Regions from separate parts of the Homo sapiens genome. Here region 1 is linked to region 2. The links come from fine-mapping of genetic effects on gene expression. Tissue or cell type: nasal epithelium. Region 2 holds a variant in brackets; the other region holds the start of a gene. All regions are shown on one strand. Distances are from middle to middle.

Region 1 (4,393 bases), 77 kb after region 2:
GTGCTCTCTTGGCACTTTGGGAGGCCAAGGCGGGCGGATCACCTGAGGTCAGGAGCTTGAGACCAGCCTGGCCAACATGGTGAAACCTCGTCTCTACTAAAAATACAAAAATTAGCCGGGCATGGTAACACACACGTGTAATCCCAGCTACTAGGGAGGCTGAGGCAGGAGAATTGCTTGAACCCAGGGGGCAGAGGTTGCAGTAAGCCAAGATTGCACCACTGCACTCCAGCCTGGGGGACAGAGCGAGACCCTGTCTCAAAAAAAAATAAAGGGGGATATATTATTTTCTGATAAAACTATGCTATTTATTTATTTATTTACTATTATTCAGAGTTTCCTCAGCTGAGGTTATTATAAATTGGGGAACCAAGTAACCCAGAAGTCGGAAACAACAACATACCGGAGTTGAGCATTGCCCTAAGTTTTAGAGGCCATCCCAAGAACCATACATAGAGTTTGGATAGGAAAGTATTTCCTTAGAAGAAGGAGGAAGTGTAAAAGGAAAAACAAGGAAGTGAAAGTCTGAGCTGAAAATGTGGGCAGGCAAAGCTTTGGGGAAAATAGAAAGGTTAAGCTGGCAACTGTACAAGGGCCCCGTCTACTGGAAGCAGATGCTCCTGGGCTGCCCTGGGCGACAGTCTTGTGAAGTCAGCATGCCCTCAGAGAAAAGGTCCTATGTGCTCGGAGGTTCAGGGACAGTGCAGGGTTGAGAGTCCATTAATCCAGTTTAGACATTCAATAAGCTTCTAGCTACTTTATTATCAACACCCCAAACTTCCTATACCCCTGTTAGTTTCTGAAAAAGAAGTCTGGGCTAGGTGGATATATATCTTGTGATTTAGGTGAATTTGTGAACGATGATTTTTCCAGGAAGAAAGGAAACTGGGACGAAGCTTCATGATGGATCCTGATGCAACTCTTCCCCAGAAACCCTTAAACCTCCTCCCATTTTTTCTGCCCTTAAGGGACAAGGCTTGGCTGTGATCATTGGCTCAAATAATGTGGACAGAGACAAGGATATTGAAACGGACTGTCCCACCGTTGAGAAAATAGTCAAGAAGGCAATATCTGAGAATAATTGGAGTGCTTTAGGAGGAAGGTCATTGCTGAGAAGAAACAGAGCTTCCAAGAAAATGAAAGGAAAAGCTCTACCAAATGGAAACTAAATCTACTTATTAAGTCTTATTTCCATATAAGGAGGGTGAAAGAAACTGATATGATTGTGAAACCATGTAAGTGTTGCTTTGGCTTTTAGACTATACATATTTATCCTTATGTTCAGGAAATGTGTTTCTTCTGGTTCCCATGTTCCCTCCAAAGCCCAGGTGGACTTCATCACCTTGAACTGCTGGCCTATGGCATAGACAGAAACTAGGAAAACCGCTTTTCCACCAGAGCGGCTGGGCGTGGGCTCGGGTGAGGTGTGATGGAAAGAGCTCTAGAGTAGGAGGGGTCGGTACCTTGACCCTCGGCTTGCCCTGGGTAGCGGACGATTAAGTGGGCCAGGGCAAGTCACCGAGCTTTCCTGGTACTGTTTCCGCATCTGTAAAGTGGGCGTGTAGTCCACCTCAGAAATGGCATTTTTCCAAGACCTCCCTAGGCCGCTTGTTGGAAGGCTCGGCACCTCGGCGGCTCTCGTGCGGCAGGCATCGCTCCCACACTTACTAGGCAATATGTCGGGTGGAAGACGTGGCGGCTCCCGCTCAGCAGCCACCCTCCCATCCTCCCGGGCCCGCCTGACCCGAGAGGGCGGGCGAGGTAAGCATCCCGCTGGTGGATAAGGCAGCGATTCCGGCGGGCGAAGGCTGCGCGCCGGGGGCGAAGGATTCCAGCTGTTCTAGGTCTCTGTGACCCGCGCCTCTGGTTCCGAGCGCGGTCTGTTGACGACGGCGTCTCCGCGGTTGCCTGGACACGGCCAATCACAGCGCGGCTCCTGGAGCCGGCCCCGCCCACAGACCGCGCCCTCACTGGGGCGATGGCTGCGGACCGTGGCCAAGAGGGCGGGGCGCCGAGGCCGTCACCGAGCCAGGTGCGGAAAGCCGGCGTCCGGAACCACCCGGGCCGGGACGACCTCCACCCCAGACCCCCAAACAGAGGCCACGCTAGAGGGACAGGGCGAGTGGCGTTGCCCCTTGCGCCTACTGTCAATGGGAAAATTAACAACAGCGGAGAATATGAATGAAAGAATGAATGAATTAACAAACAAATACACTGATGAGCTGGGGTAGAAATATAGGGTGCGAGCAGACAGGGGAGGAAGGCGCCAGAGGCCGAGGAGAGGCGAGGAGACTGCGGGAAACGCTACAAACGAACTTCTTTTCATACTTTTCAGCAGAGCATTGACCCCTGTGTAGTTTTAATTTTCACCTCACCACTGTCAGGCGATGCTCTCTTCCTTGCACAGTTCAGAGAAAGACGCTTTAAAAGAGGTGGGGCAGTTCGTTGTAGCTCAGCCACTGGACGTGGGCGGAGCTGAGACAGACAGAAGGGACAGGGAGCTGCAATTTTGCAATTGTGGAGGCAGGGGCTGCAGTTGCCAAGAATATTCTTACCTGTTTGACATGAATATTTCTATAGGCATTATTTTCTCCATTCAGCTTTGTTTTTAACCTTTGTTTCAGTGTTACCTTATCAATTAAGCAAAAGGCTCTAAATATTTTCCTATTTTTCCAGTCACCAGGAAATAAAATTGTGCTTATGAAAAGTATCTTTAAAGTCTTAATAAAAGACCCCACAGTAAGTATTGTTTTTAGGGTATTGGGATAGTAAACGATTTTAGATTTTAAAATTATAGAACTGACCAGATCATTTGCAGGTTTTTCAAAGAACTAATAAAACATAGTTAATGTTAGAACTGAGTAATTCTGTCCCCCCAAAAAAAGTCTGCTTCATCCACAGGAATTTATTTCTCCTGCATTCTTTTAATGCCTCTATCATTTAAAAAGTACTGAAAGATTTCATTCCATATCACAAATCATTCCTGGCAGTTATTAGTTTATATATATTTGGCCCTGCAAATGAAACCTGCCATCCACACCACCAAAAAACAAGCAAAAGCTTGATAGTACTGAAGACTGTTCAGAAGGGAGTAAAACACCAGCCTCGCCCATGTTTGCCAATGACCCATTAATCCTTGCTGTCCACACCCTGCCACACTAATATTCTTGGGTCACGGGGGTGAGACAGAGCACACAGCAACACATAGCCAAATGCCCTGCCTCACATGGTCACGCCAGGCACTCTTGTTCCCACCTTCACCCCATGCCTGCTCCTTTCCCTAGGACACTTGCCACATACGTGCAAGTCACCAAGATGATCTGTCCCTATCTTTCGTGTTTATGTGTCTATAAGCATACATTCTGTTGAAAATGTGAAACATTACTTACTTAAATTGTAGAATGATAAGTGAGTAGAAGTTTAAGGTTATTTTGAAGCATTAAATAGTTGGTATGGACTTCAGTTTAGCTAGTTACAGAATGGTTTGCCTCATTTTTATTGAGTTATTTGAAATAAGAAAACCTTTAGCACAGTGGTGATACACTACTATACTGAACTTTTGACAAATTTGTTTTGAGTTTACATTTTTACAGATAATTTGTATCTTTCCTTAAACCTCAGTAAGCGACATTGATCAAATCACTGCCATCTTTGATGTCAAACTTCTGGACTTTACCATTAAGGGCTCAAATTATACTTTCAGACTTTTGCTCATTGCCTCCAACACAAACCCCCATCCCAGAGAGACCCACCTGGTCCCTGCCTCTGAGCACAGATGACTTTACTCAGGCCACCCAGATTACCACAGTTTGGGAATCACCGTCCCTTCAGGGTCAGCTCTAGCTCTTCTCTCTCTCCCCAAAGCCCTCCCATGGATGCTGCGGCCCTAATAACTTCTCTCTACCTGTACAGTCTCAAAGCATTGCTTGCCAGTACCACACTCTTGGCAACCATGTACAAGCCTTTGACAAGCCTTTCGTTGTTATTTGACCTTTGTGCTGTTTACTTTTCAGGTTCAATGGGTTTTCCTTTTCTTTATACAAGTCTATCACTGCCACTGCTTGGGCTTATGGCCATGATCAGAATGTTTGGTGGAGGAGGGAGGGTGATAAAGGAAATGAAGGGAGGAAAAGCATTTTCCTAAGCCCACTGCAAAAACTGGAACCAGAGGAGACGGAGAATGTTAACTCCTTGTATATATGTGTGAGAAAGAACCTGAGCTGGAATTAAAACAGAGGCACTCCCTCTGAAGAGGAAGGAGAAACTGAGAGAGTGAGGCAGTTCCTGCTGAACCTTTGTTAGCTCTTGTGGTGAAGGGAGTTTTCGCCATCAGGGGCAGCCTTGGGAGAGGTAGGTGGGGACAGGGGCCATCACGGGGAGGTAGAGCTCAAAC
Region 2 (4,393 bases):
CCACAGCAACCAGTGCCCTAAGCCCAGGTCAGGACACCCAGTCACAGGAAAAAGCCACAGTCACCAGGAATTTATCAAGTCACACAGCAGGCTTGCCCATGCCTCAACCTCTCTCTCCCTCTACACAAGTCCCCATCCCCATTTCTCCTCTAACTGCATCCCTTTCCCAGCCGGCCTGACCTCCCTGCCCTCTGCCCTCTGCACCTCTGTAACCCAGGAGGCACTGCAGCCTGGCAGTGGTTCCAAAATTAGCTGCACACTAGGATCACCCGGGGAGCTTTCAAAAGTCCCAATGTCATCCCATAGGGATTAAATCAGGATGATTTAATCAGACATCCTGATTACATGTCCGGTGGGTGGGAAGCAGATATCAGTATTTTTACTGGTGGACTAGGTTTTGAATCTAGGCTTCATCATCTCATTAGCTGTGTAGCCTTGGGCAAGTTACTGAAGCCAAAACGGAGATAATACTAGCAGTAGCACCTGTCTCTTAAGATTGTAGCAAATATGAAATGAGCTAACGCTCATAAGGAGCCTTAAACAGTGCCTGATGTGTAAGGTATGTGCGTCCACCAGGTGTGCCCCAAAGGAAACCAGCACCTTACAGAGGAAAGGCCATGCAGGAGAATCCGTGTACCAACTCCCCTAATTGTGAAAGGGCAAAGAATGCGCTGACATCAAGTCCCTGCTTGGTGTGGAGCATGCATCATTGTATTTTGTCTGTACAGTGGTTCCTCAGCATCAAGATTATGATAGTCGTTGTGCAGAAGAATAAGGCTAAAAGAGACAAACTCAGGTGGGTCTAGTGATGGAGCTGGGATTTATAACCAGGTCTTTCTCACCCCCAAACTCATGTCCATTGTTATGAAAAATGCTTTGGTTTATAAGAAAAAAAGGGAGAAAATATTTTGTGTAGTCTCAATGTCTTTCACTAGTAAAAATGCAGTGAGGTTGTTTGTATGGTGCAGTTGTGGGGCTGGAACCCATCAAACACCAAGAAGTGCTTTCATTTACTCAGAATAGGGTAGGTGCTAATTAAATCATGGAAACCAACATCAAGATGAGTACAGCCTCACTGCTAATATTTTTTTGTAAAAGTTTAGGCAGGAAAGTTGCTGTTCTGCATTTTGGGTTCAAAATCAGACTACGTTTGCTAGCTATGTGACCATGGCCAATGACTTAATCGCTCTGTAATTCAGTTTCCTCACCTGTCAGTTGGAGATAATAAGAAACTCCCTCATAGAGTTATGAGGCTTAAATGAGCTAAATATAGGCCTACCCCTCAGGGCAGCACCTGACACATAGTATGTGCCCATTCAGTGGTCATATTGCTGTTACTACCATTTAGGGAATGCAAATCAGTCTTCCAAACTCCAAAGTTTCAAGTGGCTATTCCAAATTAGATAGAAGAGTGTTAGGTGAATATCAGAAATGCAACTGGATTTTAATAATTTCTTTTTAATATTAATAACTCAAACCCCCATTCACACTACTCCTTCCAAGTAAACATTCCACACTTTTTCCCCAGCCTGTGTCCCCTTCTGCCGCAAGGTCCTGGACCCTGCTCAAAGAAAACTGATTTAGGCCTTCCTGTAGGCATCTGAGAGCAAGTCAGATGGTTGCCTGCACAGACACAGACAGCGTGGATGGGATTTTGTCTGCAGGCAAGGGTCAAGGCTGGCCGAGCCGATCACTGAGCTCTCCTGCTCCTCCTCCCTGGAAGAGCACCGGCAACTCGACAGTCTCCCCTTGCCCAGCCTTCAGCCAGGCTCCTCTGAATGCTCTTCTCAGCGAGGCCTCAACCTTTGCACTTCTATGCTCATCTCTGCATCGCCTGATTTTAGCAAAAAGCCTAAGTCAGTGTAGCCAGAATGCCCCACCCTCAGTATCTGATCGCTTTGCTATCTGATCCACATCCTCGTTCCCACCGTCCCCCAGGCGACATCTGATCACACTGGCCTCTCTCCTGAAAGAATCCTGTCAAGTTGGTTTAGCGAGAAGCCCCCCTGCCCTTAACATCTCCTCTTAATAATTTTCCATCCACTGGCGTCCCCCTGACCTTGGCTATGAATCCCCACTTGTCCATGTTGTACTCAGAATTGAGCCCAGTTTTATACAGAGGTCTGGTTTTCCTTAGTATACAAGAGTTTGTCAAGAATCTGTTTTGTTATTGTTATTGTTGTTGTTGTTGTTGTTTTTGAGACAGAGTCTCTCTCCATTGCTAGGCTGGAGTGCAGTGGCACGATCTCGGCTCACTGTGATCTCTGCCTCCCGGGTTCAAGCCATTCTCCTGCCTCAGCCTCCTGAGTAGCTGGGATTACAGGCACGGGCCACCACACCCAGCTAATTTTTGTATTTTCAGTAGAGACGGGGTTTCACCATGTTGGCCAGGATGGTCTCGATCTCCTGACCTCGTGATCCACCCGCCTCGGCCTCCCAAAGTGCTGGGGTAACAGGTGTGAGCCACCGCGCCCGGCCCAAGCATCTGTTTTTACCACTTTACTGTCCAGCTCTGGGTACTGACAATCTCCACATATGCACACATGTGAGCACGTGGGCACACACACACACACATGTCCATGCATGTGTGTTCAGCCCCCTCCCCACCCCTCACCCCACACAGCTCTGGCTGCTCTCCTCAGCAGCCCCTCGCAGCTGGGCTCTGGAGCTTCTCTGGTCAGGAACATGGAAGCAGCCCCTGGTCCCCAGCTAGTAACATTTATGAATCTTTTACACCAGTGACCAGAAATAGCACCAAC[C/A]GCAGTCCACAGTGGCCACGTCGGGCTTGGGAGGCTCGGCCACCAGCCTCTGGATCTGGGCCAGCGTGCTGCAGGCTTCCTCCATCTCTTGCCAAACGAGAAACACGTCCTCTCTGACTCCAGCTCCTAAAAGGGGAGACACAGCATGAGCGGCCGGCTGAGACAGGCCCAGGAATGTGGCAGCCCGCCTAGCAGGCCTGACGCATTGCAGCCAAGTTTCTGGAACATTTCTGAACATCAAATTCCGCTTCCCCCACTAATCTCTTTCTGAGAATCAGAACTGAAATCCCCAAGGAAGTGATATCATCTCAAGAAATCATAAATGCAGACTTTAGGATACAATAAATCCTTCTAAAGTAAATGTTTGTAGCAGCCAGAATATTTAAAATGAATTATTGATAATACCCAAATAAGATAGGAATAAAAACATTCAAAAGCACCTCACACAAGCCAGGGTCACCGCTGCGAGGAGGGGAAATGCAATGGAATGTTGTGAAAGCAACAACCCCTAATCCTTTCGCCATGTAGCCAAGGTGTCCTGCTTCTTTGAAACCACAGGTATAATATTTCCCCCAATGTAATAGTGATTGCCTGGTCTCCTTTTCTGGACCTCTACTGTCTCAGTTAAGGGATAGGTTTGACTCTATAACACTTTTTTAAAATGACATGGCACCATTAATTTAGATATTTATGTCTTTCAATCAATCGAAGTTCATGCCAAGGAGAGTGGTTTAGGGCTGGGATACAGGCTCTGCCTTCATCGAGATCCAGGCTCTAACAGATCAGCAGTTTCTAGATGTTGGGGCGGGTGGGCCGGGGGGAAATGGATGTGCACTCTGTGGTGTGCCATGCAGAGGTGCACGGTGAGAGGTCCTGTCCTGCTACCTTAACTGTATCAAAGTCAAGGTCCCAGCCATGCTGTGGTACTATGTTACTATGGGGGAAAGTGGGTAAAGAATAGATGGGCAGGCTGGGCACGGTGGCATACGCCTGTAATCCTGTAAAACTTTGGGAGGCCGAGGCGGGCAGATCAATGGAGGTCAGGAGTTCGAGACCAGGCTGGCCAACATGGTGAAACCCCGTCTCTACTAAAAATACAAAAATTAGCTGAGCGTGGTGGCCCGTGCCTGTAATCCCAGCTACTCAGGAGGCTGAGACAGGAGAATCACTTGAACTGGGGAGGCGGAGGCTGCAGTGAGCTGAGATCACACCACTGCACTCCAGCTCAGGAGACAGAGTGAGACTCCAGCCCAGGAGACAGAATGAGACTCCATCTTGAAATAAATAAATAAATAGATAAATAGATAAATAATAGATGGGCATCTCCCTGTATCACTTATTACCACTGCCTGTGAATCTATAATTATCTCAAAATAAAAAGGTTAATTTTTAAAATCTTGAAAACAGATCCACACTCTTTCTATCCTGCTCCTCGGTCATCTCAGCACATCCTTCTGTCTTCAGCCACCTTATGATTCAACATGGTGTCCTTAGTGCCAAGCAGCACGTCCTGAGCAGCAGGGCCACTGGGAGGACACAGAAGCACACCCCCTGATGGAGTCAGTTCCTTCGAGGCACCCTGCCCAGAAGGCCCACCCCACAGCTTCATTACTTAGCCACTGCCAGAATGGCAT

The links.
Region 1: it holds the start of VWA3B, and the variant in region 2 is fine-mapped to the expression of VWA3B in nasal epithelium (TOPMed, PIP above 0.99).

What each region holds. Positions count from the first base shown.
Region 1 is chr2:98,084,639-98,089,031 of GRCh38, reverse strand. VWA3B (von Willebrand factor A domain containing 3B) reads right to left here and starts at 1,865. Exons shown (of 28, transcript NM_144992.5): 1 at 1,669-1,865. RefSeq lists enhancers at 1,136-1,636, 1,671-1,740, 1,637-2,137.
Region 2 is chr2:98,161,343-98,165,735 of GRCh38, reverse strand. It overlaps VWA3B (von Willebrand factor A domain containing 3B), which reads right to left. Exons shown (of 28, transcript NM_144992.5): 8 at 2,760-2,885. Among named protein-coding and RNA genes, the nearest start is that of VWA3B, 76 kb to the right of the region's middle. RefSeq lists an enhancer at 2,210-2,756. The variant C/A (reference allele first, on the strand shown) is at 2,760.